Linked DNA regions of Homo sapiens. The protein of the gene in region 2 binds, or shares a complex with, the protein of the main gene of each other region. Each region holds a gene or a part of one and is shown on either strand. Other genes may lie near its edges. A codon is read from its position in the direction of its gene.

What was found.
Region 1: the proteins of PPP2CA (region 2) and PABIR1 are in contact, whole or in part, in a cryo-EM structure (PDB 8SO0), measured with the Homo sapiens proteins. Residues at the interface, in NP_002706.1 of Homo sapiens: Arg89, Gln122 (codon at 6,897), Val126 (codon at 6,885), Tyr127 (codon at 6,882), His191 (codon at 5,917), Trp200 (codon at 5,402), Pro213 (codon at 5,363), Arg214 (codon at 5,360), Gly215 (codon at 5,357), Ala216 (codon at 5,354), Leu243 (codon at 5,273), Met245 (codon at 5,267), Tyr265 (codon at 4,077), Cys266 (codon at 4,074), Arg268 (codon at 4,068), Cys269 (codon at 4,065); in NP_612206.5 of Homo sapiens: Asp95, Leu96, Ile97, Arg99, Glu100, Thr101, His103, Glu104, Arg105, Val107, Gln108, Met111.
Region 3: the proteins of PPP2CA (region 2) and STRIP1 are in contact, whole or in part, in a cryo-EM structure (PDB 7K36), measured with the Homo sapiens proteins. Residues at the interface, in NP_002706.1 of Homo sapiens: Thr40, Glu42, Ser43, Asn44, Ser171 (codon at 5,977), Pro172 (codon at 5,974), Ser173 (codon at 5,971), Ile174 (codon at 5,968), Asp175 (codon at 5,965), Thr176 (codon at 5,962), Asp178 (codon at 5,956), His179 (codon at 5,953), Arg181 (codon at 5,947), Ala182 (codon at 5,944), Leu183 (codon at 5,941), Asp184 (codon at 5,938), Arg185 (codon at 5,935), Leu186 (codon at 5,932), Gln187 (codon at 5,929), Glu192 (codon at 5,914), Gly193 (codon at 5,423), Pro194 (codon at 5,420), Gly208 (codon at 5,378), Trp209 (codon at 5,375), Gly210 (codon at 5,372), Ile211 (codon at 5,369), Tyr218 (codon at 5,348), Ile224 (codon at 5,330), Thr227 (codon at 5,321), Phe228 (codon at 5,318); in NP_149079.2 of Homo sapiens: Gly421, Leu422, Pro426, Phe436, Lys443, Phe444, Pro460, Arg461, Pro462, Ile463, Glu465, Ser466, Thr469, Leu470, His473, Arg726, Lys730, Met733, Ser737, Tyr740, Gln741, His745, Arg746, Leu747, Asn748, Asp749, Trp751, Ala752, Tyr753.
Region 4: the proteins of PPP2CA (region 2) and INTS6 are in contact, whole or in part, in a cryo-EM structure (PDB 8RC4), measured with the Homo sapiens proteins. Residues at the interface, in NP_002706.1 of Homo sapiens: Arg89, His118 (codon at 6,909), Val126 (codon at 6,885), Tyr127 (codon at 6,882), Pro172 (codon at 5,974), Trp200 (codon at 5,402), Pro203 (codon at 5,393), Asp204 (codon at 5,390), Asp205 (codon at 5,387), Arg206 (codon at 5,384), Gly207 (codon at 5,381), Gly208 (codon at 5,378), Trp209 (codon at 5,375), Ile211 (codon at 5,369), Pro213 (codon at 5,363), Arg214 (codon at 5,360), Gly215 (codon at 5,357), Tyr218 (codon at 5,348), His241 (codon at 5,279), Gln242 (codon at 5,276), Leu243 (codon at 5,273), Val244 (codon at 5,270), Met245 (codon at 5,267), Glu246 (codon at 5,264), Tyr248 (codon at 4,128), Asn249 (codon at 4,125), Trp250 (codon at 4,122), Cys251 (codon at 4,119), His252 (codon at 4,116), Arg254 (codon at 4,110); in NP_036273.1 of Homo sapiens: Leu20, Gly21, Thr22, Asp26, Lys29, Gly30, Glu33, Lys78, Asn79, Gln81, Asp575, Glu576, Asp577, His580, Ser581, Val582, Pro583, Ile584, Ala585, Met587, Gly588, Asn589, Tyr590, Tyr593, Leu594, Met626, Met627, Ile628, Asp629, Glu630.

The regions. Positions count from the first base shown.
Region 1 is NC_000009.12:68,781,817-68,787,231, reverse strand, and holds the end of PABIR1 (PPP2R1A-PPP2R2A-interacting phosphatase regulator 1), read right to left. Parts: 3' UTR 1,666-5,415; downstream 1-1,665. UniProt on the Homo sapiens protein: Acts as an inhibitor of serine/threonine-protein phosphatase 2A (PP2A) activity. Inhibits PP2A activity by blocking the substrate binding site on PPP2R2A and the active site of PPP2CA.
Region 2 is NC_000005.10:134,195,074-134,202,073, forward strand, and holds part of PPP2CA (serine/threonine-protein phosphatase 2A catalytic subunit alpha isoform), read right to left. Parts: intron 6,949-7,000; coding exon 6,775-6,948; intron 6,002-6,774; coding exon 5,912-6,001; intron 5,435-5,911; exon of another isoform or gene 5,424-5,434; coding exon 5,262-5,423; intron 4,132-5,261; coding exon 4,013-4,131; intron 2,772-4,012; coding exon 2,699-2,771; 3' UTR 1-2,698. UniProt on the Homo sapiens protein: Catalytic subunit of protein phosphatase 2A (PP2A), a serine/threonine phosphatase involved in the regulation of a wide variety of enzymes, signal transduction pathways, and cellular events.
Region 3 is NC_000001.11:110,030,126-110,040,000, forward strand, and holds the start of STRIP1 (striatin-interacting protein 1), read left to right. Parts: upstream 1-4,498; 5' UTR 4,499-4,512; coding exon 4,513-4,692; intron 4,693-5,283; exon of another isoform or gene 5,284-5,314; intron 5,315-7,765; coding exon 7,766-7,835; intron 7,836-8,557; coding exon 8,558-8,632; intron 8,633-9,046; coding exon 9,047-9,181; intron 9,182-9,269; coding exon 9,270-9,390; intron 9,391-9,698; exon of another isoform or gene 9,699-9,812; intron 9,813-9,875. UniProt on the Homo sapiens protein: Plays a role in the regulation of cell morphology and cytoskeletal organization. Required in the cortical actin filament dynamics and cell shape. Part of the striatin-interacting phosphatase and kinase (STRIPAK) complexes.
Region 4 is NC_000013.11:51,359,780-51,367,116, reverse strand, and holds the end of INTS6 (integrator complex subunit 6), read left to right. Parts: intron 1-1,271; coding exon 1,272-1,365; 3' UTR 1,366-2,834; coding exon of another isoform or gene 2,835-2,878; 3' UTR 2,879-5,119; coding exon of another isoform or gene 5,120-5,307; 3' UTR 5,308-5,540; downstream 5,541-7,337. Other genes in the region: SERPINE3 (serpin E3 isoform 2 precursor), read right to left, coding at 5,120-5,307, 5,753-5,839. UniProt on the Homo sapiens protein: Component of the integrator complex, a multiprotein complex that terminates RNA polymerase II (Pol II) transcription in the promoter-proximal region of genes.

The DNA.
Region 1 (5,415 bases), on a different chromosome or scaffold from region 2:
CTTCTTTCCATGGTGGCTGCCTAAAATGCTTCCTTCCCTAACCCAACTCAATTCTACTCACTTCCCTTTACAGAATTCACCAGCCTTTTTCCTATTACCTGATCCTTCCACAGGATTTTCTAAAAAGTAGGAGAGTTTCAATCCCATAACCGCAAAAGTAGGAGAGAAGCCAATCCCATAACCGCAGTGCAGCCAGAGGTTGCGTGTCATGGTATTGGAGAGGGCCGACTCATTTTCCATGAAGGTAGACATGGCTGTGAGTGATCTCACATCTGCATTTGTCCATGCGGGGGTGGTACTGAATCCCAACCTTCCGGTTGGAAACTCTTCCATCAATCGCCTTAAGAGAATGGTTACCGTGGAGGGTATGGTTGCTCCGTGAAGCTGCTTGGTAAGTGGTCATTTCCTCATAGACTTTTGTTTTGTACTCTACTCTACCATGTATTTACAACAGTTAGCTACCAGTCCCTTTTCGTTCTAAAACAAAAAATTTCCCCTAAATCTTTGAATAAAATTAATGCTATAGGGAAAAAATACATAAAGCTGTGGAACCATGATTTCCTTCTATACACTTTAATTTCTTGCCTATTACTAAAAAAAAAACTTCCTGGTATGTTCCTTTAATATAATACTGTTTTAAGGAATGATTACCTATCATTTGATTCAAAACAGAAGTAGCAGCACTAGTAAAATAAAGCAAGTTGCTAAAGTTAGCTGGGAAATGGTCTTCAAGTTAATAATAAAAAAAAGTTTATAATAATAATAATAAAAAAACCAAAAGGGCCTAAATTCAAAAGGAAAAAAAATAGACAGTAATAGGGACTTGAGAAAATGGCCTTGGTTTTCTCATCTCTTCAATGGGAATCCATAGCACCTGCCTCACAGGGTTGTCATGAGGATTTTAAACACTCATAAATGTAAAGCACTAAAAATAGTGTCTGGACCCATAGTGAATGCTCAAGAAATATTAACACATCATTATTATTATTACTGGCAAAAACTCACGTTATCAGGCCATTTATCACTTCCTACCCAGGAAGGCAAATGGTCATAAGGGAATCACAATCTGGTGAAAATCTTGGCTGCCACGCAATGATAGCCTTATTTCACAGACAGCATACTGAAGACACAGCTCAAGATTTCTAAAATCTGGAAGGAAGAAGTAGTCATTAGAGAAGGATCAGTATTTCTGATTTCTAGAAGGGGGCTATCACCTATAAAAAGAAGAATAAGGCTTGTTTTGCATTTGCCAAAGGTGGACTTGAATTGAATGGTGGAAGTTAGAGGGAAATGTCTGTTCACTATAAGAAAGGCTAACATCAGAAACAATCGCTTCATAAAAGGATAGCCTGCTTTGAAGGATATTGTACTGTTAACTGAGTGTGAAAGCAGGAGTTTCATCCATCAAGGATGCTAATTGCCCAGCATCTTTGTAAGCACATTGTGTACGAACCCATTCAATCCTCACCACAGCCACCCTGCTCCACTGTCTATATTCCTAACCACCACAATTCGCTGCCTACCTCCCAGCTCTGGAATCCTGGGCAAGTAACTCAACCTGTGTCTCCATTTCCTCATTTATAAAATGAGGATAATGATAGCACTTGCCTCAGATGATAGTGATAGATTAAATGCATTGATATATTTGCTTAGCACTTAGAACAGTCCCTGACACATAGCAAGTATTTTATTACTTTTTATACAAAGGTCATTTCAACTTTTAAGAAAATTTTTTTACTTGGATGGCAAGTTACAGAAGCCACAAAGAACTCTGTCTTGGCTACAGTGAGCAATCTGACACAATTTTTTACCAAGTAAGTGGCACTCAAGGCTTGCCTTCAGCCCTGATTCTCTAACAGCCATGAAAAATGTGGGCAAAACTGCTGGAGTGAGAGACCTACATTGAGACCAGATTCTCTATACTTTGTCATGGCTGATAAGGTAAAGCCCTGAAAAAAGTGGTCTAGTCCATAAGCCTCTGCTCCCTTCTCTTATCCTCAATGCCTCAGCCAATCATTCAAACTACACTTTCAGCAGAACCCTTAACTACTTCACACACTGGGCTTTACCTAGTACCCACTTAACCAATTCCCAAACCTAGTCAATCCAACCCACTTCCTTGTGCCTGCCATCCAACTGCAACCTGGCATCCATCATAGCCTAATAAGCCTTCTACTTGTCCTTAACTTACTCCTTTAGATTCTCAGAGGCAACATTAAACCTTTACTGCACTCAAGCTTCCAAATGATCTCCTGTCCCTATCCTCATGTATCTTAGATTCCTCAATAATTGGAAAATAGGCACAATCAGAAACAAATTCTACTTTTCATATACCTACCTCCATACTCCTAAACCCCTGCAACAACAAATCAATTCAACATTTATGGATATCTTTGCCTAGCCTTTTCACTCTCCCTCCTGTTTCAGAAGAAAAATAAGTTTCCAGACCTCCTTTCCAAGGCCAACTCTTTCTTCTGTTCTCTGGTGCTACTCAAGAAATGATCATCATCTTCTTGGTTCAATTGTCTGGCAACCATTCCCCTGACTCCCACCTCTGTTAGATCTTCAAAATTGTTCTACTAATCTATAAACACACCCTGAAAAAAAATGTTCTCAGACTCACTTTCCTCATTTAAGTCTTGATTCCTTCCCCAATTTTATTGCCAAATAAACTGGTCTCTTGCTACAGGTATGTAACTGGTTGAACTAATAAATGTGAATCACTGGAAGGCAATCTGATACAAGTTATTCTTGATTACAATCAATCTTTTAAGTATGCTTAAGGGTCCTAACATCCAGCAGCCTTGGAGTTAATGATCTTTAATGATTTCTCCCATTTATACTGTGTTTTTAACAAGCATAATAAAGGAAAATATACCAGAGGTTTATTAAGTATGACAAACTGTACTTTAAATAAATGTTGCTATTGACTTTAGGACTTCTTGCACAAAGTTTATAGATTAGCAATACTAATACCTTAAAAATGCTTTTTGAAGGATAATTCTTACACGAGCTAAGTAAGCCCTTACAGTCTACAGAATAATGATGGACGTTATGAACAATACTATGATAACGTAAATTGTCCACATGCCCTTAGAACCTTATCTGATTTAAAAACTTCCCATCTATATAGAAGAATAAGCTTACAGAAATAATGTTTCCATACCTTCGGGGAAAAGGATCTAAAATAGGAGAGAACATGATGTATTTAAGGAAAAGAAAGGCAAGCCAGTGAGGGCGAAGCACAGAAAACGAGGGGGGAGGAGGGAAGGACCAAATTCCTCAGGGCCTCCTAGCCCAGAATTAATACATTTTGGCATACTCATGAGAACAGGAAGCAAATGAAAAGCGTTCAGCTGGGAGATGGAAGGATCAGGTCCGCAATTTTAAAAGAATGACTCTAGTTGCTGTATGGAGAATGAATGGATAGCCGACCAGAGTGAGTGTGAGGAGCACAAGTGGGAGTTAGGAAGTTGCTTCAGAAGCCTAAGAGGGAAATGCTGGTAGCCTGGATCAGAGTGGCAATAGAGGTAGAAATAAGGAGATAGATTCTAGCTGATAAAAATCAGTAAGACTTGAGGAATGATTAGATATGGGGAAAAGTAAAGAAGAGAGGTGTCAATGACATGTTGGTTTCCTGCATTTATATACATATATACATGGAAATGCCAGTAACACATCTTGTACAATAGATATCAAGTTGTTAACAGAAGTTATCTGTGGAAAGGGAAGATGAATTTTACATAATTAAAAGCAGACTTTTAAAACCACACAGATATGTACAATGTTTAAATATTTTACAATCAGCAGGTATACATTGCCTTCATACTTAAACTCACGTGCAATTTGCCTCCCTGAAAAGGATAGGAATTATCCCAAAGAACAGACACAAGAAAAGTACATGACATATTTAAAGAATATCAAGTGGTCTAATGTTTGCAGAATAAGAAGGAAAGATGTATACTGGAACAGAGATGAGGAGAGGATTGAAGCTATTTCAGAATATGGCCAGATCATAAAGGTCCTTCTATCTGAGGCTAAAGAAATCATTCCTTAAAGAGTAGGAAATGGGGAAGCAAGTGAAGTTTTCAAGCAAGAGGGCGAAAAATATCAAGTTTAAATTTCAGAAAGATTACTCAAGAGGCAGTATAAAGACTGAACCAAAAGGAGACAGAAGACAGGCTGGGAGATCACTCAGGCAAGAACTTAAGGCAAAATCAGGGGCAACAGATAGAGAAGGGAAGAAATTTGAGATTCATTTCAGAAGTTGACAGGACTTGGTGATTAAGCTAATCCAACAGAGAAAAGGAAAAGTCAAAGATGCTTCCATAGTTTCTAGTTTAGGAAATCAGTGATGACATCAATTGAGCTAATGCAAGAACAGGTGAAGTGAGAAGATTAACAATTCCTGTGTTGAAGATAATGAAGTTCAAATACCTCTGGAGGCAGGGCAAGTTACCCAACAAGAAGTCAGGCTATTTAAGTTTGAATTTCAACAACAGGGTCGAGAATGGGAGCACATGAACACTATTACTCAGAAGAGAGAATTTTAAACCTGTGGACACAGTCTTACCCTCGATGCAATTTCACTCCATCTTGAGGCAACTGTCAAGAGTTGACCAGTTCCATTTACTCTCATAGTTGTAAAAATTCCACAAAATTGTTAAAGTCTCTGTAAGCGATAACTTTAAACAGTCAGAGCTTTTGTCTTGTTCTGAGTCATTTTTCCCCTTTCCTCTTTGTATGCCATTCTTTCTGTCAAACTATCTAGTTAAGGAAGATATGTGAGGTATAAGGATGCATAATATAAAAAAATTTTTGCTATTCTTATTAAACATTTTGTCTTAATTGTAAAGGTAAAGAAAAGAACATTCGACTATTCTAACTTTAGGAAAACCTAAGTTAAATAATGATTTACCTATGTGACTCTCCACTAATTTTCTCTTGCAAATCATCACCCCTTAATTAACTGACATCCCCAAGGCAGTCAACTCAAGCTGTAGCTTTAACCACAGAGGTTAAACAATTCACAGTCCTGTTGTTGCTGTCAGAAACCCAAGTTACACTGTACCTTTGTCTAATCAATGGTGCCCTAGTTTGGTGGGAGATGGAGAGGAAGGGACCTGTTGGCAAGGAAACAGCTGCTTCCTTCCTGAACAAGGGAAAACCAGTAAGGTGACAGATGGGCAGAGCAGAAAAGTAGCCAAAAATTGCTGTGGCTCCTGTTTGGCAATAATTTCTGGAACTGAGGCACAACTGAATATTTTAAAGTATATCAACAATTGAGAGAGTATTGTTTACCTGAGTGCGCCAAAGTTCAACAAGCCTTCCCACACGTTTCCCACATTTGAAAAACTTTTAAGTTTGCAGTAGTACAAAGAGCTTAGCCTTAGCCTATGTATAGTGGGCAAAGAC
Region 2 (7,000 bases):
ATTGACAAACTTCTATTTAAGAAATACCGACTACAACCAACAAATGTTTAATATGCAGCAAATGAAAAAATCATGTCTAGGATACTCAACCCAAGACATGAGCACATCATGTACAAATTCATTGTAAACTTACAAAATAAGTTTCAAAATTTCTGCAAGCCCTCACTATACAAACTCAGAATCCTCTTTATTTTTGAGACAGGGTCTGGCTCTGTCACCCAGACTGGAGTACAGTGGCACAATCTCAGCCCACTGCAACCTCCATCTCCTGGGCTCAGGCGATCCTCTCACCTCAGCCTCCCAAGTAGCTGGGACTATGGTATGCCACCAAGCCCGGCTGATTTTCATATTTTTTGTAGAGATGGGGTTTTGCCATGTTGGCCAGGCTGCTCTTCAACTCCTGACCTCAAGGGATCCACCCACCCTGGTCTCCCAAAGTGCTGGGATTACAGGCATGAGCCACTGTGCCAGGCCTGTTCTTAGGGAAAGCTTTTTAGGTTTATTAATGAAAATCCTAATGTTACTAATTGAGACATCAGTTAACACCCAACTTAGTGATTCCCATCCAACCATAATTATGTATTTTTCAAGAAAATACATAATTTACTAACACATTTTCCTTACCATAGCCATTTTCAAAAGAAGGTAGGGTACTAACACTTTCCAGTTTAGATGGCCAAAGCCCGGTCAGTCTCTATAATTAAACAATTATTTTAAACCCTAGTTATGCTAAAACCAAGCTATTCTTATCACAAGTCCCATTCTGCTAACCACAAAATTTAGAGAATTTGTACCTGGAAGATACCACCACGTGTCAATTACAATATACGTATTCCTTGGTCAATTCTGATATCACAGGACCGGAAAAAATAGCTGCTTGGTGTCTAGATTGTTTGGGTATTAAAACCACTGCACATGGATAAGCTATTTGTTCAGTCGGAGAGAAAGGGCATAGAGTGACAGAGCAACAAAAAGACACACAGAGAATGTATTTCTTGTGAAAGAAAAGAATGAAATGAAATGAAATGTAGAAACCCTAATGGCCTTTTGCTTTGGAAAATTAACTCCACAAGCCACTAAAAATACTATCAATTAGATCAGAAAAGACATTCGGTATGTATGTGTTCCTCAAGCATTTTAGAAAGGGGATATGCTATAACTTCCCTGTTGGTTCCAGATTCAACACAGCACAAAGCAAGAAAACTTTTATTTACTACACTCACAAGTATGATTAAGTGTTCCTGTTTACTCTGGTAGGTTAAAATATCAAATATTAGTTCCCACAGAAGAACTTTTTTTTAAACATCTAATCCTATTCGAAGGATAAAAGGGGAAAAACTCATTAAATGTTGAACACTGCCACTTTAAGTACCATTTTTGTCTTCGGGTGAATGTACATAAGACTAAATCATGATCCAACAATAGTTTTCTATTTGGTTTCACTAGTATCACTCAAAGAACTTGACACAGGCTAATGCTTTAACACTTTCTTATCTGAGACAAATTTAACTCTAAGAACATATGACTCAACAATGTACAAAGATTTAAGAATTTGCCAATCTGTCAATCATTTTAAAGAGTCCATATAATATACACATAGCAATATAATATTCATAACCAGAAACTGCACTAAGTAAACACATCATTTAGTTTAAGCTCTACCTGAAAACATGCTGTTTTATTAAAACAAAACCCAAAGACTTAAATCTCAAGTTATATGGTTTTACAATTAAGTCTTACTGAAGCAGCACAGATTTCCTTTCTTACAAACAAGTTAATATGCAGGAAGAACCCACAAAGTGCACACCAACAATGTGACAAATTGTAATATGTGAAATACAAATAAATCCTGAAGTTAATCTGAAGAATGTCAAGGAGTTACCAGAGAGGTTATGTAGTGCCCTTGATTTTTATTTTACCTACAAGTCTACAAATTCTAAAATTTACTCAATTGATTTAACTTTTTTAATAAACAGCACCAGTCTTGCCCATTGATACAATTAAAATTTGACCTTCTCAGTTCTTAGTTCACAAGTTTATTATGAAAAACACTGCAGTGCTCTTGTGCAGTCACATCGTCTTACAGGAAGGGGAAAAAACAGTTCTGTTCAAAACAACTCACCAGGTTCTGACAATAACAAAGAACAACATGGGGCTGAGATTTGAGTAGGGAATAAACTGAGTGCAGACAAATCATATAATTAAATTAAACGGTATCCCTGAAAATAAAAAGAACAATTTCAAAACTCACAAGTAGAAGGGAGGCCTTGGTAATTATTTTTAAAAATGTTCATTAAGCTCCAATGATTGTTTGCTGCTATCCTTATCTACAGTCATGCTGAGTAAAGCTATAGCTAAATGGAAGTTAAATTGTATTCACGAGGTGTTAATGTTTACATCTTATTATCTGCAGTCTCTCAGAGAAAGCAAAAGTAACTACAAATAGCGCTATGCCAGAAACTGGTTTCTTGACCAACAATGTCGCTTCAGCATGCAATGAACTGGTTCATTCTAAAGTGGTCACGGCTGTTGATGACAAGAGGCTTTGTATTTTTATATGGCACATCTTTTGGTCCATGTGAAAACAAGTTTTTTGAATGTTAACTATTTTCTGACACTTTGGAGTTACTGTTGCTCTTCCCATTTCCATTAGGTCGATATATGGTTCATGGCAATACTGTACAAGTTTAAAATTTCATTACAGGAAGTAGTCTGGGGTACGACGAGTAACATGTGGCTCGCCTCTACGAGGTGCTGGGTCAAACTGCAAGCTGAAAAACAAGACCGATTCATGGTTTATGTTCCACGACCTCCATGTAGTGACAATCAAGATCAAGAACATGAGTCTTCCAAACTTTACACTTCCTATTCAATTTTGGCTTGTCTTAATGTAACAGAACCTTAATGATAATGGTCTGTTAACTGTACTCCCCTTGAAAGAGTCAAGGCAACTTCAGCCACAGAGACTATGCTTTTATAAAAACATGGTTTTTACCTTGACTGAAATTTCAAACAAAACAAAACAAAACATGGTTGGCCGGGCGCAGTGGCTCACGCCTGTAATCCCAGCACTTTGGGAGGCTGAGGCGGGCGGATCACGAGGTCAGGAGATCAAGACCATCCTGGCTACCACGGTGAAACCCCATATCTACTAAAAAAATACAAAAAAATTAGCCGGGCGTGGTGGCAGACGCCTGTAATCCCAGCTACTCGGGAGGCTGAGGCAGGAGAATGGTGTGAACCCGGGAGGCAGAGCTTGCAGTCAGCCAAGATCGCACCACTGCACTCCAGCCTGGGTGACAGAGTGAGACTCCGTCTCAAAAAACAAACAAACAACAAAAAAACACAAAACATGGTTTTAAAAGTGAAAAACCTAGTAATTCATACGAAGATCTATATATAATAAGTTCCTGTTGGTGTGTTTCAATGTAGATCCATTAAAAAAAAAACAAAACTTAAAAATAAAAGTTGGAATCTGACATAGCATAATCCCTTAATAAACACTTTTTTGAGACGAAGTCTCGCTCTGTTGCCCAGGCTGGAACGCAGTGGCGCGATCTTGGCTCACTGCAACCTCTGCCTCCCGGATTCATGCCATTCTCCTGCCTCAGCCTCCTGAGTAGCTGGGATTACAGGCAGGCGCCACCATGCTGGGCTAATTTTTGTATTTTTAGTAGAGAAGGGGTTTCACCATGTTGGTCAGGCTTGTCTCGAACTCCTGATCTCAGGTGATCCACCCGAGCCTTCCAAAGTACTGGGATTACAGGCATGAGCCACCGCGCCTGGCCCCCTTAAACTCTTAAACCTCACATTTAAACTATGTATTCAGGCTGGGCACTGTATCTTATACTTGTAACCCCAACACTCTAGGAGGCCAAGGTGAAAGGATCACTTCAGCCTAGGAGTTCGAGACAAGACTGGGCAATATAGTGACACCCTCTCTCTCAAAATAAATAAACCAAAACCCTACATATTCAGTAATGCAAGAAAATGTTCAGGTAGAATTACTTACAAAGAGTATTTTAGAGTATCGTCAAGTTCCATGATTGCAGCTTGGTTACCACAACGATAACAATAGTTTGGAGCACTGAAAATCGTTACTACATTCCGGTCATGGCACCAGTTATATCCCTGCAAGGAAAAGGAGACAAAAATCTTACTTTACTCCCTCAATTCAACTAAATGTTACTTCACTCAAGAGAGAAAAAAATCTCTACTCATTCCCACCCCTGCCAAAGGGGCTTAAGAAATGTTAATGCTTTTTTTCTGGATGACTTAATAATCTCCTGTACTTTATACAACCTGTAAGGTACACATGTATTTATTTTCCCCCTAATTACAAAACTTGTTTTTTTTTTAGTACTTTAAAAAAAAAAAGGCTTTAACAAACAGCAGCAACCACCAAAGAATGAAATACTTCTCATGTATCTGCCTTGCTGTAAATGACAATGTCTCATTAGCCTCTTCTCTTGCAGTGGCCTTAAAACATGATTTAAGAATAAGTATTTAAGTGGCCATTCCCTAGAGAAGTAGATACTTAATCCTGGAGACCAGAACCTTACCAATTTTGTCAGTCACAGGTAAAGGCCTGTTAAGTTGGTCACTGCCCAGGAACAAATGCAATATGCCTCTAGGATCTCCAGCCTCATTTCCTCAAAGTCCATCCACCTGAATGCATGAGCTACTTTTGTTACTTTTTGTTTAGTATTGTTCACAATTTCTTTACCTTTAGCAAAGTCAGATTTTATTGATAACCACAGAGTTGTACTAGTATTAATCTAATTAGGACCTTATTTTAAAAATATTCTAATCAGTGTGCCATGTCAAGAACCTTTGCCTCTTTCCCTTCTTTCAAATCACCTGTAATCCTAGCATCCAAAGGACCACTTAAAACATTTTCGTGTATTTCTTTCCAGTCTCTCCTACATACATACATTAAATATACGAAATAACATTGGGATCATAAAATATCATACATGCACACCAACTCCCTATATCTTACTTTCCCACTCTTAAATCTCAAGTACTTCCTAGTCATTCAGATTTCTCTGAAAACATGTTAATGGATTCATTGTAATCAAAAGCTTGAGCTTTTAATTCTAGTAGTGTGCATCTACTGAAAAGGCTCAGGCTATAATGATAAACTCATCAGAAGGAATAGATGGAATTTCTCACAAATGTCATTAATTTAAAACTCCCTAATATCTTCTTTCCTTAAGTTTACTAAAAAAACAAGTCATATTTCAGAGAACACAGCATACCTCCATCACTAGCTGGTGAGCTCTAGACACCAACGTGAGGCCATTGGCATGATTAAATGTCTCAGAAATATCTTGCCCAAAGGTGTAACCAGCTCCTCGAGGAGATATACCCCAACCACCACGGTCATCTGGATCTGACCACAGCAAGTCACACATTGGACCCTAAAAAATAACTTCAAGTTATAAAATGCCTTTTACAAACATGGTTAACACATTATTTGAGTAATTCATCAGAAGCAGCACCCTAAGCCACCCTTTTTGAGTGATGTTTGTGGACAATGCTAATAGACTGTGCAGTTGAAGTCAAACATCTGCATCAAATAAGATGTATTTTCCAGCAGACTTTATGAGACACAGCTGACATCCATGGGACCCAGCAGCAACATGCCCTAATTAATCTGCCTATATTATGCAAATTTCAGAGTCTAAGACAGACAACCCAGGTCCTAATAAGCCCAGCTTCACAGCTGTTGTGATCTTGGCAGGTTTCTTAATGTCAGCTTCTTTTGAACAACAGGGCAGACAAGAGTGCTCACACCTCAAGTTGTTTTTGAGAATTATATGAGAGAATACATCTAATGAACTTACAATTAAACTTCTCCACTCCCTAATAAGTTTTCTGAAAGAATTTTATCAAATAAAAGTCATACCTCATGGGGAACTTCTTGTAGGCGATCAAGTGCTCTGATATGATCCAGTGTATCTATAGATGGCGAGAGACCACCATGTAGACAGAAGATCTGAAAAGAGTGGTTTAAAAGGTTAACCTCACCTAAAAAATTTGTAAACATTCTTGGCTGGGCACAGTGGCTCATGCCTGTAACCCCAGCACTTTGGGAAGCTGAGGCAGGAGGGCTGCTTGAGGCCAGGAGTTTGAGACCAACCTGAGCAACACAGCAAGACCCTGTGTCTCTACAAAAATTTTAAAAAATGAGCTGGGCACCCCCATCACTTGGCCCCTCTGGTGTTTCTGTGCTCTGCCTGAATGAGACTTGACTTTGCAGGGTTCATCTTTGCTCCAGCCCACTCTGAACTATTGAGTACACTCCTGTTCTTCCTAATAGACCATCGCTGTCACAACCAGACTCCACTTCAAACAGCTCCTTTGAGAAAACTTCTTGGATATCACTCCTGCCCTTTGCCAGAGACTAGTATCTTCATACTCATAAAATTTTATTGTAAGTTCTTTTGTGTGCACATCTACCTAGGCCAATAATTAGCTCCTTACATCTCCCAGACTTGTCCAAAAACAGTCTGAGAGGGTAAATGGGCTACATCACCCACCCCTGTGATCCCACCATACAGTTCAGTGCCTGATATAAAGAATAATGCACTTAAAAAAGTTGGACACATTTGTCAAATTAAATTTTTTTTAAGTTTGAATGAATGCTATCAATATCTATTAAAAAATATCCCCAAAGGGGTGTTAAGAGTGGAAAGAGTCATAAGCACCTGAACACTAAAGAAAGCAGATTCTCTGAAATAATCAGCAATGAGTTTTAGATCCACATACCTGCCCATCCACCAAGGCAGTGAGAGGAAGATAGTCAAAAAGATCTGTAAAATATTTCCAAACATTTGCATTTCCATATTTTCTTAAACATTCATCATAGAAACCATAAACTTGTGTGATCTGTCTGCTCTCATGATTCCCTCGAAGAATGGTGATGCGTTCACGGTAACGAACCTAAAACAATAAAATGCAAAACATAAACAACTAGCTCTTTCAAAAACCAATG
Region 3 (9,875 bases), on a different chromosome or scaffold from region 2:
TCTCACTATGTTGCCCAGGCTGGTCTTAAACTCCTGATCTCAAGTGATCCCTCCACTTTGGCCTACCAAAGCGCTATGATTACAGGAATGAGCTACCATGACCAGCTTTGACTTAGTCTTTTGACTAATTCATGTTTATATAAGAAAGCTGAGATTTTATAAGTTAATCTGACCTGAGACAGAGTGAAGCTGGCTGGTCCCTTTGGAAGACAGAATTAACTATTAGTTATCTGCCCTATTAGTTAATTAACCAAAACATTATTAATATTATCCTCTTCTCATAACCATTAATGGAGAGAACTCCATGTGACACAGTAACTAGAGGGTAAGACTGGACCCACAGATGTTTTATATGCTATACAGATTACTTTAATACTGAGCATTTCAGTGACCAGCAATGTATTTACAGTCCAGGGCTAGGATGGAAATTGCTAGAAACAGGCTCACTCTGCATCCCAGCATATACTTAGGTATCAATGAATGTGAAACATCTTACCCAGTACCTGACACCCTGTAGGCACAGAATACATGCCAGTTTCCTTCTACAGAGCCCAACTGGAGCAGCCACTATGTTCTTGCAACTCCTGCAATACTAGAATGGCTCAAATAGGAAATTTCTTCCTCCAGTCTCTTGAACAATGACTGCTCGTGGTGAAGGAAGGGCTTCTCACCTTGGGTATCACCTCTTGGTAATAATTCTCCTTTTTTTAAAAAAACAAACCAACAAACAAAACAAACAATGCTTTATAGTTTTCTCTTTTCTCTTTCTTTCTTTCTTTCTTTCTTTTTTTTTTTTTTTTTTTTGGAGACAGAGTCTTCCTCTGTCACCCAGGTTGGAGTGCAATGGTGCAGTCTCGGCTCACTGCAGCCTCTGCCTCCCAGGTTCAAGCGATTTTCCTGCCTCAGCCCCCTGAGTAGCTGGGATTACAGGCGCATGCCACCATGGCTGAAAATGTTACAGGAAAGGGTCTCAATCCAGACCCCAAGAGAGGGCTCTTAGATCTCTCACAAGAAAGAATTCAGAGCAAGTCCATAGGGTAAAGTGAAAGTAAGTTTATTATGAAAGTGAAGGTATAAAAGAATGGCTGCTCCACAGGCAGAGCAGCTCCGAGGGCTGCTGGTTGCCCATTTTTATGCTTATTTCTTGATTATATGCTAAACAACGGGTGGATTATTCATGCCTCCCCCTTTTAGACCATCTGGGATAACATTCTGGTGTTGCCATGGCATTTGTAAACTGTCATGGTGCTGGTGGGAGTGTAAAAGTGAGGAGGACAAGAGGTCACTCTCATCACCATATTGATTTTGGTGGGTTTGGGCTGGCTTCTTTACTGCAAACTGTTTTGTCAGCAGGTTCTTTATGACCTGTATCTTGTGCTGACCTCGTATCTCATCCTGTGACTAAGAATGCTCTAATATCCTGGGAATGCAGCCCAGTAGGTCTCAGCCTCATTTTACCCAGCCCCTGTTCAAGATGGAGTTGCTGTGGTTCACACATCTCTGACAAAAATACAGGTGGGATTATTCTCATTTTACAGATGGGGAAGGAAAAAAAAAAGAGAAGTGCATGAAGACACTTCTACAGCTTCTACTCTCTACTGGATTGTGCTTTTCGCAAAGTTTCCTAGCAAGTTAGAGTAGTGAGCTCTCCAGCTGTGCTTCTGCTCCTTCACATTTGGGATTCTTTTTCCTTCTAGATCTGTATATTCTGTCTTATGCATGCCCCATTCCATTAGTTAGCCATTTTTCTTTTTCAAAAATTTTTTTAATTTGATTTTTTTTTTTTTTTTTAGAGATAGGGTCTCGCTCTGTTGCCCAGGCTGGTCTCAAATTCCTGGGCTCAAACGATCCTCCCACCTCAACTTCCCAAAGTGCTGAGATTACAGGCATGAGCCACGGTGCCTGGCCCCTCAAAGTTAGCCATTTTCTTATTGGCTATTTTTCAAATTAGGTTGATCCCAACTTTACACTATTGAAAACACCATTGCCTGAATATTATCATACACCTATCTTTATCTAAATCTGATTATTTCCTTAGAATCTATTACTAGAAGTGGAATTATGGAACCAAAACCCTCCCTGTTCTAAATTTAGCTGAAAAATGTTTTTCCCCGGGTGATACAGCTTATGATAGGCACAGGAAGATAGGTAGGAGGAAATAGCAGTGTGGTGGTTTTGGATTAATTTATTAATTTACAACAAAGACTTTTTAAGCACCTACTAGGTTGGACCTCAGGGGAAATCACTGGAGAGTTGTATCACAGGGACTTTCTGGACTTGAGCCTGGGGTGTAAAGCAGGCAATATGTAAAGCTGGAGAGACAAAGATGGATAAAATGCCTTTAAGGATTTCACAGTATAACAACAGATAATAGTAAGAGTTATTATTACGCAACACTTCTAAGATGTCTGATGAGTATCTCAAACTTGATGTGTCCAAAACTGAAGTCTTGATCTTTCCTCTAAACCTGTTTTTCTTACTCTCGAGCTTACTTATTTATGAAAGTGATACAGCCATCCACTCAGTTGCCCAAACCTAGATCAAGGGGGTCATTGTTTATTTCCCCTACCCAGCTGATAAGATTCCAGCAAATCCTGTCCCCCTACCTACACAATATAGAAATATCAACCCAATGCTCCACTCTGGTACAAGCACCATCATCTCCATCTACATGGTCCCCTAACATGTCTTGCCTTATCCACTCTTGCAACTCTCCAATCCCTTCTCCAAAAGCAGCCAGATTGAACTTGTAAACATCACACCATAACATCTCCCTGGTTAACACCCTCGAATGGTTTTCCATTTCACTTAGAATAAAATTCAAACTCCTTCCCACTACCTTCAAGGCCCTGCATTCTTCTGGTCCCTGCATTATCATTATATGGCTCTATCAATTACTATCCCTCCCTTGGCTCACTCAATTCCAGACACTAACATCAGGGCTTTTGCATTTAGCTGTTTCATCTGTCTGTGTGCCCTTCCTGGAACTTTGCAGGGCTTCTCCTCACTTCTTTCAGAACTCATCTAAAATCACACCCTCAGGCCTGCCTTCCTTGGGCAGCATGCTTATATTATAGCCACATTCTCCGCCTCCACCAACCCCTGCCCCCCGCCCCACTGCCACCTTTTAACCTCTCAATTTTTGTTACTTCTGACAAAGATTCTCTTCTTTGGCCAAAACTCTAGTCAGGCTCCTGTGAGTCCTCTGCCTACTAGGACTAACCGTTTGGGCTTCCTTTCTGTCCTTGTTGAATCCAGTTTGTGCAGGGACTCTCCACTCTTGGCGTCTTAATCCATTTTTTGTTGCTATAACAGAATACAAAACACTGGGTAATTCATAAAGGAAAGAAAGTTATTTTTTGCAGTTCTGGAGTCTGGGGAGCCCAAAGTCGAGGGGTTGCATTTGGTGAGGGCTTTCTTAAACTGCATGGTAGAGAGCCTCTCACGGTGAGAAAGCAAGAGCATGTGTGCCAGCTCAGATCACTCTTCCTCTTCTTATAAAGCCACCAGTCCCATCACAGGGGCCCTACCCTGACGATTTTATCTAATCCTAATCACCCCCTCAAGGCTCCACCTCCAAATACCATCAACATATGAACTTTAGGATTGAGTTTCCAACGTATGGAATTTGGGGGACACAGTCAAACCATAGCACTCGGTATCTGACCACCCTCAACATCTTAGCACCCTGTCCTGCTTTCAGCAATAATCCTGTTAGGTCAGTTTAGCAAGAAACTTCTTATCCTTGATGTTTCTCTTAGTAGTTTTCCGTCCACTGACCCTCATCCTGCTCTTTGGTTATAAATCCCCACTATATCTTGTTGGAGTCAGAGTTGAGTCTAATTCCTCTTCTTCACTGCAAGATCTGGTTGTAGTGGTCCCTGTAACTATCACCATGGGCTCTCTTACATAAAGTCTGCCTTACCATCTTTAATTAGTGCCATGAACAAATTTTCCTTTAACACTTTTCAGCATTTATTTCTCTATATTTGTCTATTGTTTGTCTGACCCACCAAGCACTGTTATGTACCGTGACTGCAGACACTTGTTCCTCATTTTATCCCACTGCTTGGTGCACAGGAGACATTTATTAAATGTTTGTTGAATGAATGAATGACAAGCACTTGTCACAACGGTAACTCTGTGAAGACTAGGATCCTATCCATTTTGTTCATTACAAAATTCCGCCTAAGCCTTGAACAAGGCTATGAGTTATAAGTGCAAAGCGATTTAGAGGAAGGAGGGGTAACTAAACTGACTGAAGAAGCTAAGGGAAGCCTCACAGATAAAATTACATCTAAACTGAAACTGAAAGGAAGGTGGAAAACTAAAAAGATCAACAAGGGAAGGACTGCAGACAGAATATCGCGAGGTATTGGTCAGCCAAGATGGCTTCTAACACTGGCCGCCACACTTAATATGGCGGCCAGGGAAATTTCCTGGAGAAAATCACGCGAGAGTTGCATCACGGCGGCTGTGCGCGAGTTAAGCTGGGGGTGTGGAGCAGCCAAGATGGAGCCGGCAGTCGGCGGTCCGGGCCCACTGATCGTGAACAACAAACAGCCCCAGCCCCCGCCACCTCCGCCGCCGGCAGCCGCACAGCCACCACCCGGGGCACCGCGGGCCGCCGCGGGCCTCCTGCCTGGGGGCAAAGCCCGCGAGTTCAACCGCAACCAGCGCAAAGACTCAGAGGTCAGGAGCTTCGGGGGGCGAGGCTCGCACCGGGTCGGGCGGCGCCGGGGGTCCCGGGCCCGGGGCCACTCTAGGGGCCAGGTTGGGCTTCCCGGAGGGCTCGGTAGAGTCCGGCCGAGAACTGTCACTATACAGCGAAAGGAGCAGGAAGCGAGGCTGGCAGCTCCTGGGGTCTGGAGCATGAGTCCTTGCTCTAGCTCCGCCGCCCGGGAGAGCTTCCCGTGGCCGGCGACTGCTGGTTTGCTCCCCTGGGCCCCGACTGTGGGCGTGGCCTCGAGGCCCTAGCCCCTGGGGAAGCCGCTCTCGCCCCAGCTCGGGGGTGAGGAGTCGGGGGTCTTGGTGCACTCCAGGGCGCTGGGCTGCCGCGCCCCCAACCTAATCATCTCGGGCGTCTGTCCCTGGCACGCGGGCTCCAGCTCCTGGGTCCTGCCGCTCGCAGAGGAAGGCGCGTGTGGGCAGGGAAGGCGCCGGCGAGGATCTGGAAGGAACTTAGAGCCGGACCGAGCTAATTATCATTGAGAGTAGAGTAGGAGGGGGAAACATGTCCTGTTCTTCTGACCTGAGCCAGATCAGGCCATGGGTTAACAGTACCTGTGGTGGGCTATTGTGCCCAGTGCGCCTGATACTGAACTGTTAAAGATGAGAAATAGACATTTTAAGCATGCGTTAGGACCCAACATTCCTTCCTGTCTCGCTAGTGAGCCGTTCCTGCCGTTCTGGAGATGGCATAGTCTGGAACTGACTAGTAACCTCACCCCAAGTTAAGGAATTCCTCCCACTGCCTCCTTTTGCAGAATTCATGAATGAAGATACTCATGTCGCGGAGTTTTAGGGCTTCTTAATGAGCAGGTTCCCAGAGCACTTACTATGCCATCTCCTAGATTGATCAGCAGCCAAACTGATCAGCCAAGTTAATGAGAGGGAATTCCTAGTTGTCCAAGCATAATGTACCAATTCATACCAAAGAGCAATGATACTACCTTTAGACCTGTGGAATCAGTTCCTCAGAAGCTTTTATTTTTTGTTAGCAAGGCTAAACCCCTGAGAAAACATGTCAACAATTGGCAAGCCCGAAGTAGACGTAATTTGAGCTTGGAGTGAATTATTTGAAAAAAACAAAAACACTGACCATTTAGGAGCCCTGGCATGGTGGGATGACGGACATCAGTGTTAACTACTCAGTTTTTCAAGTGGAAGATTACGAAAGTGCAGGGGGGTGAACCTACCTTCATCATGAGAGGAGTTATCATTTTGAAAAATGGTTTAAAATTTTCCAGAGTAGCTACGAATGGTCAAATAGATACCCTCTGACGAATTGTAATTTCTCTTTGTACCCTTTAATTTCCACATAGAGGCCGGGTGCAGTGGCTCACGCCTGTAATCCCAGCACTTGGGGAGGCCGAGGCGGGCGGATCACCTGAGGTCAGGAGTTCCTGTCCAGCCTGGCCAATGTGATCAAACCCTGTCTCTACTAAAAATACAAAAATTAGCCGGGCGTGGTGGCTGGTGCCTGTAATCCCAGCTACTCAGGAGCCTGAGACAGGAGAATTGCTTGAACCTGGGAGGTGGAGATTTGCAGTGAGCCGAGATTGCACCATTGCACTCCAGCCTGGGTGACAAGAGCGAAACTCTCCCCGTCTCAAAAAAAAAAATTTCCTCATAGACTCATTACATGAAAGACCAGTCAAATGGACACATTTAAGCAGAGACCTGTCTAAATCCATTTCTTTATAGAGAGTCTGATGCCATGATCTTTCTTTAGTCATAGCTGAAATCGGTAGTTTGGGAGCCTGATCAGTGAATGCCTGGAGGACAGGGAGGCTCACATTTGATGAGAGCCCACTATGTACTACATAATTTTGATTAGTCCTTAAAAATCTTCAAAGTAGATTTTCATCATTGCCATTCAATGAATGAAGAAACCGAAGCTCAGTAACTTGTGAAAGTGTACACTGTGTTATCTCTGAACACAACGTGGAGTTCTTGTTTGTGGGTATGTTTTTTGTTTTGTTTTGTTTTGTTTTGAGACAGAGTCTCTGTCTGTCTCCCAAGCTGGAGTGTAGTGGCGCGATCTTGGCTCACTGCAACCTCCACTTCCGGGGCTCAAGCGATTCTCCTGCCTTAGCCTCCCGAGTAGCTGGGACTACAGGCACGCCCCACCATGTAAAAATATATTTTTAAAAAATTTTATATTTTTATTAGAGACGGGGTTTTACCATGTTGGCCAGGCTGGTTTCAAAGTCCTGACCTCAAATGACCCGCCCACCTCGGCCTCCCAAAGTGCTGGGATTATAGGCATGAGCCACCTCGCCTGGCCATTGTGGGTATGTTGTGTCATTTTGTGGCTGGTCTTTGTCTTCCCAGGTAGACTGTAATTAAACCTAAGGACTTTACCTATTTGTTTCTCACTTCTCTCTTCCCAGTACAAGGCTTCCAAGATGGTGTGTTCTCAGTAATCACCTATTTCCAGCAGGAAAAAGATTGTCTTTGTCACATTTTCTCTTATGTGTGGGAGGGAAGTTGATCTGTTTGGCGGCTGCCTTCTTTGTCAGTTCTCACTGAAATTTGAGACAAAGGTGGGAAAGCTGAGGGTTTCAATACTCATTTTTGTCCTGAGCTGTTGACAGTCCACTAGCCAGAAAGAAGTTAAGACTTCTGGAATCATAGCATCATATGGAATGGTCATTTACTGCACAAAATACATAGAAACCTTGTATTTATTCATTTAACAAATATGTGTGTATAGACCATTCATTCATTCACTTATTCATGCCAGGTACCATGCTGGACCTTGTGAAATCATTGGTAAGTTAAATGGATGATGTTCTTGTTCTCAGGGAACTTACAGTCTTGTGGAAAGGCAGACAGTAAACACATCCTATAATGATAAGTTATGATAAATGCTCTGAAGGAAAAGTATAGGATACTCTGAGAGGTTTTAGGAAACAAAATGTGAAAAAACATAAAAAAGTGGAGGCAGTGGTGTCCTGTAACACAACAGCATCTCGAAGCATGAGTTTCTTTGATAAATAGAATGATCCTTTTTCCTAAAGCTCTCTCCTCTTGTCAGCAGGGCTATTCGGAGTCACCAGACCTGGAGTTTGAGTATGCTGACACAGACAAGTGGGCTGCAGAGCTCTCGGGTAACGCACAGACCTTTGTGTTATTTGGGGGTGGTTTTTTCCTTATTGGTCTTTAATAAAATTAATAATGAATATCATTTAGGGCTTCATTGCTTTCCCTAGTTCTATCAAATATATATATATATATATATATATATATATATATATATATATGTATAAAACATGTTATTTGATTCAAGCCTTGTGTATCTTATAACTTTGTGTTGTCCTTTACTTTTATGAAGCTGGCTAGAGCCCAGTCCCATTGTGAGACAGTGATGTTCCTTGGCTATCCACTGTGACCCTGACAGTGGTCTCTCCTCCAGCAATGGGTCATGAGGGATGCCTGCATCTGTGCCCATCTGCTGCTGCCACTGCCACTCTCATGTAATGCGAGGTCGGTGTGAGCTGCTTCTCCAGCCTCTACAATACACATCCTGCTCAAGAGGTAGCAGCCATTTGAGAGATGCATCCCAGGTGGCCGTCAGCCCTGGCATGGCATGGTGGGATGGATGCACATCGGACTGGAAGTGTCCAGATGGCATTCTGGCACTCTGGTTGTCTCTATTGTGCACATCAGAGCACTAAGATCCCCTTCATAATTAGAGAGCTTATTCCAGGAGTCACTATGACTCAGGGGCAGAGTTGAGAGTGGAAGCAAATGCCTTGCCTTCTCTGCACTTGTGAGACCTGGTGTGCAATGCAGACATGGAACCAATGGTGACGAGACTTTGTTCTGACAGAGCTTTACAGCTACACGGAAGGGCCAGAATTCCTGATGAATCGAAAATGCTTTGAGGAGGACTTCCGGATCCATGGTGAGATGATTTCCCACACTTCTTGCTTCCTTTGCCCTGCATAACGAGAGCTGCAGGTTTCTTTTAGGCATCTGAATGACCTGAGTCATCCTGGAACAGCCTGAGAAGCCTGCTGAACCCTGATGGTTCAAAGCCAGATACATGTAGAGTGGGCTTGTGGCACATCGGTGGGGGCTTTTCAGAATGTGCATATTAGGGGAGAAAAAAAAATCATGTGATTAAAATTGCACCCAAAATACCAGCGTTTCAGTTTGGAATCAAATTCATAGAGCAGCAGTATGATCTTACCACTTACATAGGGTGTAACTTATCTTTCTGGTCCTATGGCAGTCCTGAATTTGGTGAGTTAACATGGGTCCATGCCATTGTGAGGATTTTTCTAGGCTCAGGTGTAACTGGTTTCTTGCCCTGCAGTGACAGACAAGAAGTGGACTGAGCTGGATACCAACCAGCACCGGACCCATGCCATGAGGCTCCTGGATGGCTTGGAAGTCACTGCCAGGGAGAAGAGACTCAAGGTGGCTCGAGCAATTCTCTATGTTGCTCAAGGTATTGAGTGGACCTCCCCAGGGTTCCCTGGCACCTCTGCCCACTCAGATGCAGGGAGGGGCTCAGTGAGTTGAACCCTGCATTGCAGGCACGTTTGGGGAGTGCAGCTCGGAGGCAGAGGTGCAGTCCTGGATGCGCTACAACATCTTTCTCCTCCTGGAGGTGGGCACGTTCAATGCTTTGGTGGAGCTTCTGAACATGGAAATAGAGTGAGCATTTTTGAGAGGCTGAGTAGGGAAGGGGAGGCTGGGATGGGAAGGGGGACAGAGCTTGCAGAACTAACTGGCTTTGAGAGGGTTAAATGGGGCAGAAGTTCTGGTCCCAGGCTGTGTTCTGACCACCTGGGTTGAATAACGGAGTTGGTCACTTACACCTTGAAGATTAATGGAGACTAATGACAGGTCCCTGCAGCTCCCTGATGCCAGAGTTTTTACACCAGACAGTGCAGGCCCTGCCCAGGCCTGGGGTGCTCCTCAGAAGGAGACTCTTCACTTTGAGCTCTCTTTTGAACCTGCAGACACTGCTGTGTTCGCCCTGCAGTTTCCGCCTTGGCAGGAGGCCAGGCACAAGACTGACATATGGGCTCAACCAGTGCCTGGCCTTGCCTGTGTCACCTTTGTCCAGTGGACAGGTCAGCTGCTGCTCATCTAAGGATAACACCATCAATGATAAAGCTAAGACAGCTCATTGAGTG
Region 4 (7,337 bases), on a different chromosome or scaffold from region 2:
GCAAATATTGGGCCATTTTATACAAGGGACTTGAGCATTCGTGGATTTTAGTGTTCATAGGGAGGCCTAGAATAAATCCCCCATCCATACCGAGGGATCACTGTGTAAAGAAGGTGGATAAAGGTTATAAATGGTAATTAAGAAGTGCAATTAACTGGAAAACATAGTTGTATGAGTTTAAAAACATTTTTTATTTTCCCTTCAAGATTTTGGGGATTTTAGTATTATAAGAAAACTTGGGGCTTATCACATCCCACCTTCTAAATGTAAACACACTTATACTTTGTCCCCCTGTCTCTTCTATGCTACACATGAAGATTTTAGATAAAGTTGGTTTTGTTTCTGGTTTTCTTTTCTTTTTGTACTTTTGGAGTGGCTAGAGCATAGGCCAGTTTGCAGGATCAAGATAAGGCTATAACTTTTCATGTAATTTTGAGTATTTAACCTATTATGCTCTTTATGGTAACATTCTGTCAGCTAAAACCTCATTAGGAATTTATATCCCCGGTATCTGTACTTCACTTCTGCCACCTTTTAGAGAGTTGTGTAGTATTATGGTGGCTATTTATATTAGCTTCTAAGTAGCAAGGAAGTAGGAATAAAATGTCCAGTGTCTTGGGATATTCTTAAAACCGTCAGCAGTTACGTATACAGATGCAATTTTAGTCTGTCCATATTTGTTACTGAAAATCTTTAAAAGTTGTTACTTGAACTTTAACTGCTTGCTATACTCTGTATTATAGATGTCTATCCTTGATTTGCTAGCTCTCAAATTGTAATAGAATACCATGGTTTTTAAATGCTGCTGACCAATTTTCATTTCTTCTTCCATTTTGTGGGAGATTATATTCATACTTTGTTCACATTCCTTTCAATATTCAGCTTACAAAGAGCATGAGAAGAAGCTATTGAAGTATTTGCTTGGGGAGCCCAAATTTCACTAGAGTGTTTGCAGCCCTTGAATATATTTTGAATATATTAGTTTTTTGTTTTTTTGTTTGTTTTTTCCTTTTTCTTTTCGGTTGTGGAAGGAACAACCTCTTTCCCATTGTTTAGCCCTAGAGTGTTTTAGGGACAAACTATAATACTGTACTAGGATAATAATTTGCTAATCTTTCAACATATTTTATATTGTCGTAGTATTGATTTTTCTATTTTCATTTCACTTTGAAAAATCTTCCCAAAATTTTCTCTCCTTTCTTAAAAAAATTATACTGATATATACTATTCATTAAAAAGTAATTGAGAGTACTATTTATTTTTTCATACAGGTTTAAAAAACGAATGCTAATAGAACAACTGGAGAACTTCTTGGATGAAATTCATCGAAGAGCCAATCAGATCAACCATATTAATAGCAATTAAAAGAAAATAGAATGTGGCCACTTATTTCACTATCTTCTTCAAATACAAAGTAAATACAAGACTGTTGTGATCTTGCATTCATTTTCTGACATGCATTGTTGGCTATTTGAAATACTAAAAGCAAATCTACAGATCCTTTTTCCATCATTTTACAGTGACCTTTTCTTCATTTTGGTTTATTTTTGTAATGTGAAAAGTATCACTCTAAAAAACATTTTTAATTTAACAAACTAAAAATATTCCTCCAAATCTCTTGCTTGTCATTGACTCTTGCGTGTCAATTTCCCTCAGGTTCTATTTTCTTAAACCAACCTTTAAAATTGTCACCTCTGTTAAGGTTGAACTTTGCCAAAAAAAAAAGAAGTTACTTTGTAATTTTTGGGGAAAAAAGCACATACATTAAAACTAGGTAATGTTTTGTATATACAGTTATTTTGGATATATTATTGTAAGTTGTACAAATGTATTTTGAAGAATATTTAAGAAAAGCACTTTTGTTATTCCATCAATAAATGCTCTATTTTACTCTTGTGTGGTTTAGGAAATAATCACATTTAAAGTAATCATTTAAAAACATCCTAAGATAATGGAATTTTAAAGGCCTTGCTTTTTAGCATTGGAAAAATACACCACTTGAAGTTCATGTTTGTTAAGCCTAACTGTAATTACATGTTACATAATCTGCATTGCCTTTTTACTATATGTTCGTAGTTTTTGTTGGCCATGCCAACATACTCCCATTTCTGCCTAGATTATGGGAATGACTTTGTATGGGGCAGATAGACAGATACTTTAAAAGCTATTTAAAAAGCAAACAACTTTGGATATTATTGGTTTCCTTACTTCAACACCTTTTCCTTTATCACTAGGATTGTGGATGGCACGAAGCTGAAGCTGTTAGGGAGTGGTAGGTTTGGAGTACAGTACATGCTCTGAAATATCTAGCCTTTAGCAGCTTCATGCCATGCTTGCAAAAGCCCACAACAAATTGGAGGCCTCCTTGTTCTGCTCTGCTGTTCTCACACTTAAACTCTGTTTTATTTATAAGCTAAATGGAAAGGAAACACCTTTAAGATGACTTTGCTCATTTTGCATCCCCCCTGAGTTTCACAGGATAAGGAAAACCACGCTATTCATTCTCCACCCTCAATTCAACATGGCCTAGAGTATCCGTACTGAGGAAGCAATCTTATGGCCTGACTCACTCACCATTCATGATCACTGCTGTGCCTTTTAGTGGTTTGGGGGGTAAGCAGTAGAAAAGAAGGTCAAAATAGATTTGGATTAAGAGTAGGCAAAATAAACTTATAACATTTAAAAACTGAAGTATTTTTAGGTTTATAATATTGAAAATCACATACCCTTAGCTTTTTACACTTTATCAGACATTTTTTTAAATTTCAAGGGTATAGCAAAATGAAATTATAACTTTATGAAGAAAAGCATTGATGAAAGTGGAGAACATGCATTTAGTCTAGGGGATTTGAAACTCTCCCAATACTGAAGACAAACCCTGTCAAGAAAAAGAAGAATTTAATATTATATAGTATTTTCATATGCAGTTCTTTAAGCTTTGTTTACTTCTATACAAATACTTTTAAGTAATGCAAGATAACATTTAATAGATGGAATTGTTAAGGTAATTGCCTGTAGTCACATTGCTAAATTCATTGAGAGTTACACAAAATCCAGAATATATTGTCTGTTCCTAAATTATATATATTTAGATTCTGGAATTACTAGGAGGAATTAGAAGTCATTCAGATAAAAATTCATACTTAACAAGAGTATCTAGGAAAGAGATTCAGCCCATCCCAATATTGAGCAGCTTTCCTTATCAGAAAGTTTTATTTTCTGTTTCACAGATTGCTCATGACCTTTAATACATTTTTCTGAATGAACCCTGGAGGGAGGTGAGAAGTAGCAGTTTTGTTCATCTCTTCTTTTTGTCCTTTATCTCTCTGCCACTGTTCTCACCTCATCCTAAAACCTGGTCAGGAGGGTTTGAAACCTATCAGAACTAAAGGTTAATATCTCATCTCCCTCAGGCTTTTTTCATTTAAAAAAAAAATGGGTATATTAGTTAAATTAGAATACTTGTTGTAGAATTATTGTCAAAGGGGAAGGGAAATACATCTAGGGGAAACATCATGTCTTTTAGGCCCTTTATGTCACTGAATGACTTAAGGCTCGACAAATGATATTCTTGGAAAGTTTAATCTTGAGGTTTTCAAATCTTTTTTTTTAATGTCTCCCATGTTTCTCATTTGCTGATTGATTCATTAGTTGCTCTTAGTAAGATTTGTCAGTTGGAAATAATGAAGGCTGAGACTCATTTCTAAACTCTTCCATAACCATCACCAGAAGAGCAGCCACTGTGTTGTGTGATGTAGGCTAATGCCTCCCAGATAGAGGTAAAGTCACAAGGACTATTAGAATTCCAGTGGATTGTGGAACTGGTTTTGGATTATCCTTATATTTTCATTCTGATTACTGAGGCAGTTCTGAAAACTCCTACCATTGAAATAGTGGTGTGTCTTTTCCTTGTTTAAGGATTTTACATCATTTTTATGCACTTGAATTCCAAAATCAGAATCTCTCTTTTACCTATCAACCTTTATTGGCTATTGGCTTTTGGCAATGACCTTTCTGTTCAAATGTAGTCCTGTCTCTTTGTTTCCTTAGGGAGTAGAACCTGTCCTTTTTCTCATCTTTCATTTTTTTGACGTGTCCTTTCTAAGAGAAGGCTCTCTGCCGCCTGTTCTGGGTGATAAGTGATATTTTCATCTAATCGTTATGTGGTTGGGATGATCATGGTGAAATACTAGGAAGACATACTCTGTTGATGGACTTTTTCTCTCCAAATAATCCCAAATAGATTATTTTCTAGTGAATGGTTTATATCTTTCTCGTCACAAAAATGTTCCTTTGATTTCTAGCACAAGGTACAGCAGGATGCAAATGATTCTCAGATAAAATGATGTTGACAGTATTTCCTTAACAATTTATGTAAAACTATGCATAATTTTCATTCTAACTTTTGACATTTTTCTCCATAAATAAAAGTAATGCCTGATGTTTAGTTAAAGTAGATCCACCTTTGCTTGATTTTATTAGTCTTGTTCTATCCTATTTCTTTTTAATACACTGTTTAGACTTGCCAACAACTCTTAACTGAGAATCTCTTTTCCTTCCTAGGCTAAGTAATTGTGAGTGGGGGAGGAAGAACATTAAGAGAAATAATCTAAAGACTTTGTTCAATATTGTCGAAGCCTAAGAATATTTGTGTGTCCTTCTGATGTACTGAGGCTTTGCCGGTACCACACCATCTTTGGATTACCATAAGGTTATGTAGTAGGACTTAAAAGTACTAGGGCAAACATTTGATTTTTGAGAAAGATCAACAGAACAGTATAGAAATCCAGGTGCATTCATTAGAATACTAGGATCACAAGAGGACTACTCTGGTGTACTCTAGTGACCTGAAAAAACTCTAAAATGATAAGAAAGCTAGGGGACAAAGGGAAAAAAGGGCAAGATTTATAATTTATTTTACTTTCATGATTTTTCCAAGTGTCTTCAGAAGTAGAAACCTATAGCATTAAAAAAAAAAATCTACATTAACTATATATGAGCTGAGAGAATGAGAAGGTAAAAAACATGGAGGATAAGTTTCCTTTGTACTTACGAAATAGTCCCCTTTCTTAGGATAGAAGATAGCAACTGGGTAGCTTCTGAAGCACCATAAAAACAGCTAGAAAGAATGCTTATTTTTGAGGGGATAGTGGACAAATGAGCCCTTGTTGCTAGAGAGACACTGATAAATTATCTGAATCCTGTCAAAAAATACTGTAATACCTGTGTTAGGTTCTCTCAGGAAATAGATGAATGGCCGATCTGCTTTAAAAATAGGAATCCGAGACCTTTTCAATAACAACAGAGCTGCAGGAAAGAAAGAAAAATTCCATTGCATTTTCTGTGCATTTTTAAGAAAATAACTATTGGTTATGAAGTAAGTTAATTTTTTAAGAAATCAAAGCATCCTAATGGCATTTGATTGTTTACTGTTGTGATGGGGGTGCAGATGGGAAAATTAAAGAGAAAAGATGCCATTTAGCCAATCCTGTCTCCTGTTTTCAACACATTCCATGGAATAAATTCCTTATTGAAGGTAACTTTCAGAATTATTTTTATGGGATGGATATCTCTTCTTCCCCGTCATTTTTCAAAAACTTTTTGTTTTCTTTAGTGTTCCTTTTTAAAAAATACTACACCACACCTGAACTTGGGGGTTATGGAAAGATTCAGAAGTGTGAAGATTCAACTAGGTAAATTTCAGAAAGGTAGATATGGGTAAGCAGTGTGACTGGGTATTCTCTGAACATACCTGTGGCTCCAGATGCCTTGGTGCCTTCCTCCAAAACTTCAATCTTGGCCTTGTGGATTGCTTCAGAAACATAAAAGCCATCTTGGCCTAACCACAGAAAATGATAAAAATGTGAGTTGCTCATTAACATTTTTCTAACACATTTAGAACACATTCTTTAAAAATGTACTTACAAAATTTATAGTATCCAATGCTGCTTACTGTGTAGCTAGGGAAAGAGTGGAAAATTCTGTTTTTGTTTTTACTGGAGGCTCAGGTAGCTGTTTGGAAAATTCTTAAGACTCAATATGTTACCAAACTTTAATTTGTTATATATATTTAATTTGTTAAAATATGTAATCGCTCCCAAAATAATATTCAGAGCACTGCCCCATTTTTTCAGTGGTTCATTTTCAGAAATGATTCTAGTTAAAACTACAATCCCTCCTTCAGCCAGTATTTCCTAAACTTCAGTGATCATAGGGTATGTGTTAAAATGCAGATTCTGTAGCCCGGGAATCATTTTCACCAAGCTTCAGAGATCATTTCCCTTGAATGCCTTTTTGGACTGCACTTTAAGAGCCACTTTTAAATGACAAAGTCACAGGTTTTTATTACAGGCTTTATTGAGGCACAATTCAGAGTAATATGAATGTGTCTAGTGTTGCATGACTGTATTCTGTATACTTAGGTGTATCAGTTATGCAATTAATTTGCCTCATGGGCTAGAATCTACAAAGCAAATGAGAGGTTAGTATAAATGTTCTATGTGCTAACAGTTTCACAGATTATAAGTTTAGCAAATAGGACTAAGTGATAATTTAGAGGAATTGGCTGATTTTTGTAAGCTAATCATTAACCATTTTTAAACAGCTCCAAAGATGAAAGGATACTTGATGACACAGTAAAAAATGAAAGATTTAGAACCAGAAGAAACTTAGGAAATCATTCAGTCCAATCCTTTCATTTTAGAGTGAGCTGTGAACTCACCTGAGATCACACATTTGAAAAGCAGAGTTGAGAATATTCTGATTGAAAGCCCACTCCCATCCCACCCCTCTCCTCCATTCAAACACTGCCGCCTTTCAGAAAGTGTATGCTAGTCAGCTCCAACATGCCACTGGGAGGTATCTGTGGCATGAATGTTAAAATGATCAGTTTGATGAACACATATTGTGTGAGGGAGCTTTGTTTCATCTTAGACTAACGCTTAAATTGGTTTGTGTTTGTCACGCACACACAGGAGATAGCCCATGAATGCCATGAGAGAATAAAACCAGACCAAAATAAAGAATATGCGGCATTCCATCCATCTTGTAAGATGTGCACAGGATGTTGGGAGTTGGCTATATTCACTGTAAGGAACAGTTATTTTCCAGCATCAGTGAAGGGGACAGGAAGGGCCAGAGGAAGTAAAAATCAATAGAAACATTCACTAGTGTCACTTGTCCTAAAATCAGCAAAGAATTTGATTTATTTTAGCAGTTGGTCTTTTTCTCTAGGGTCTTTAAGAAACAAATTTCACTATCAATAATTAGCCCCTCTTACTAGCTAATTAAGCAAACTGAAATGCAGTGCCAAAGTTACAAAGAGCTTTAGGGTTAAA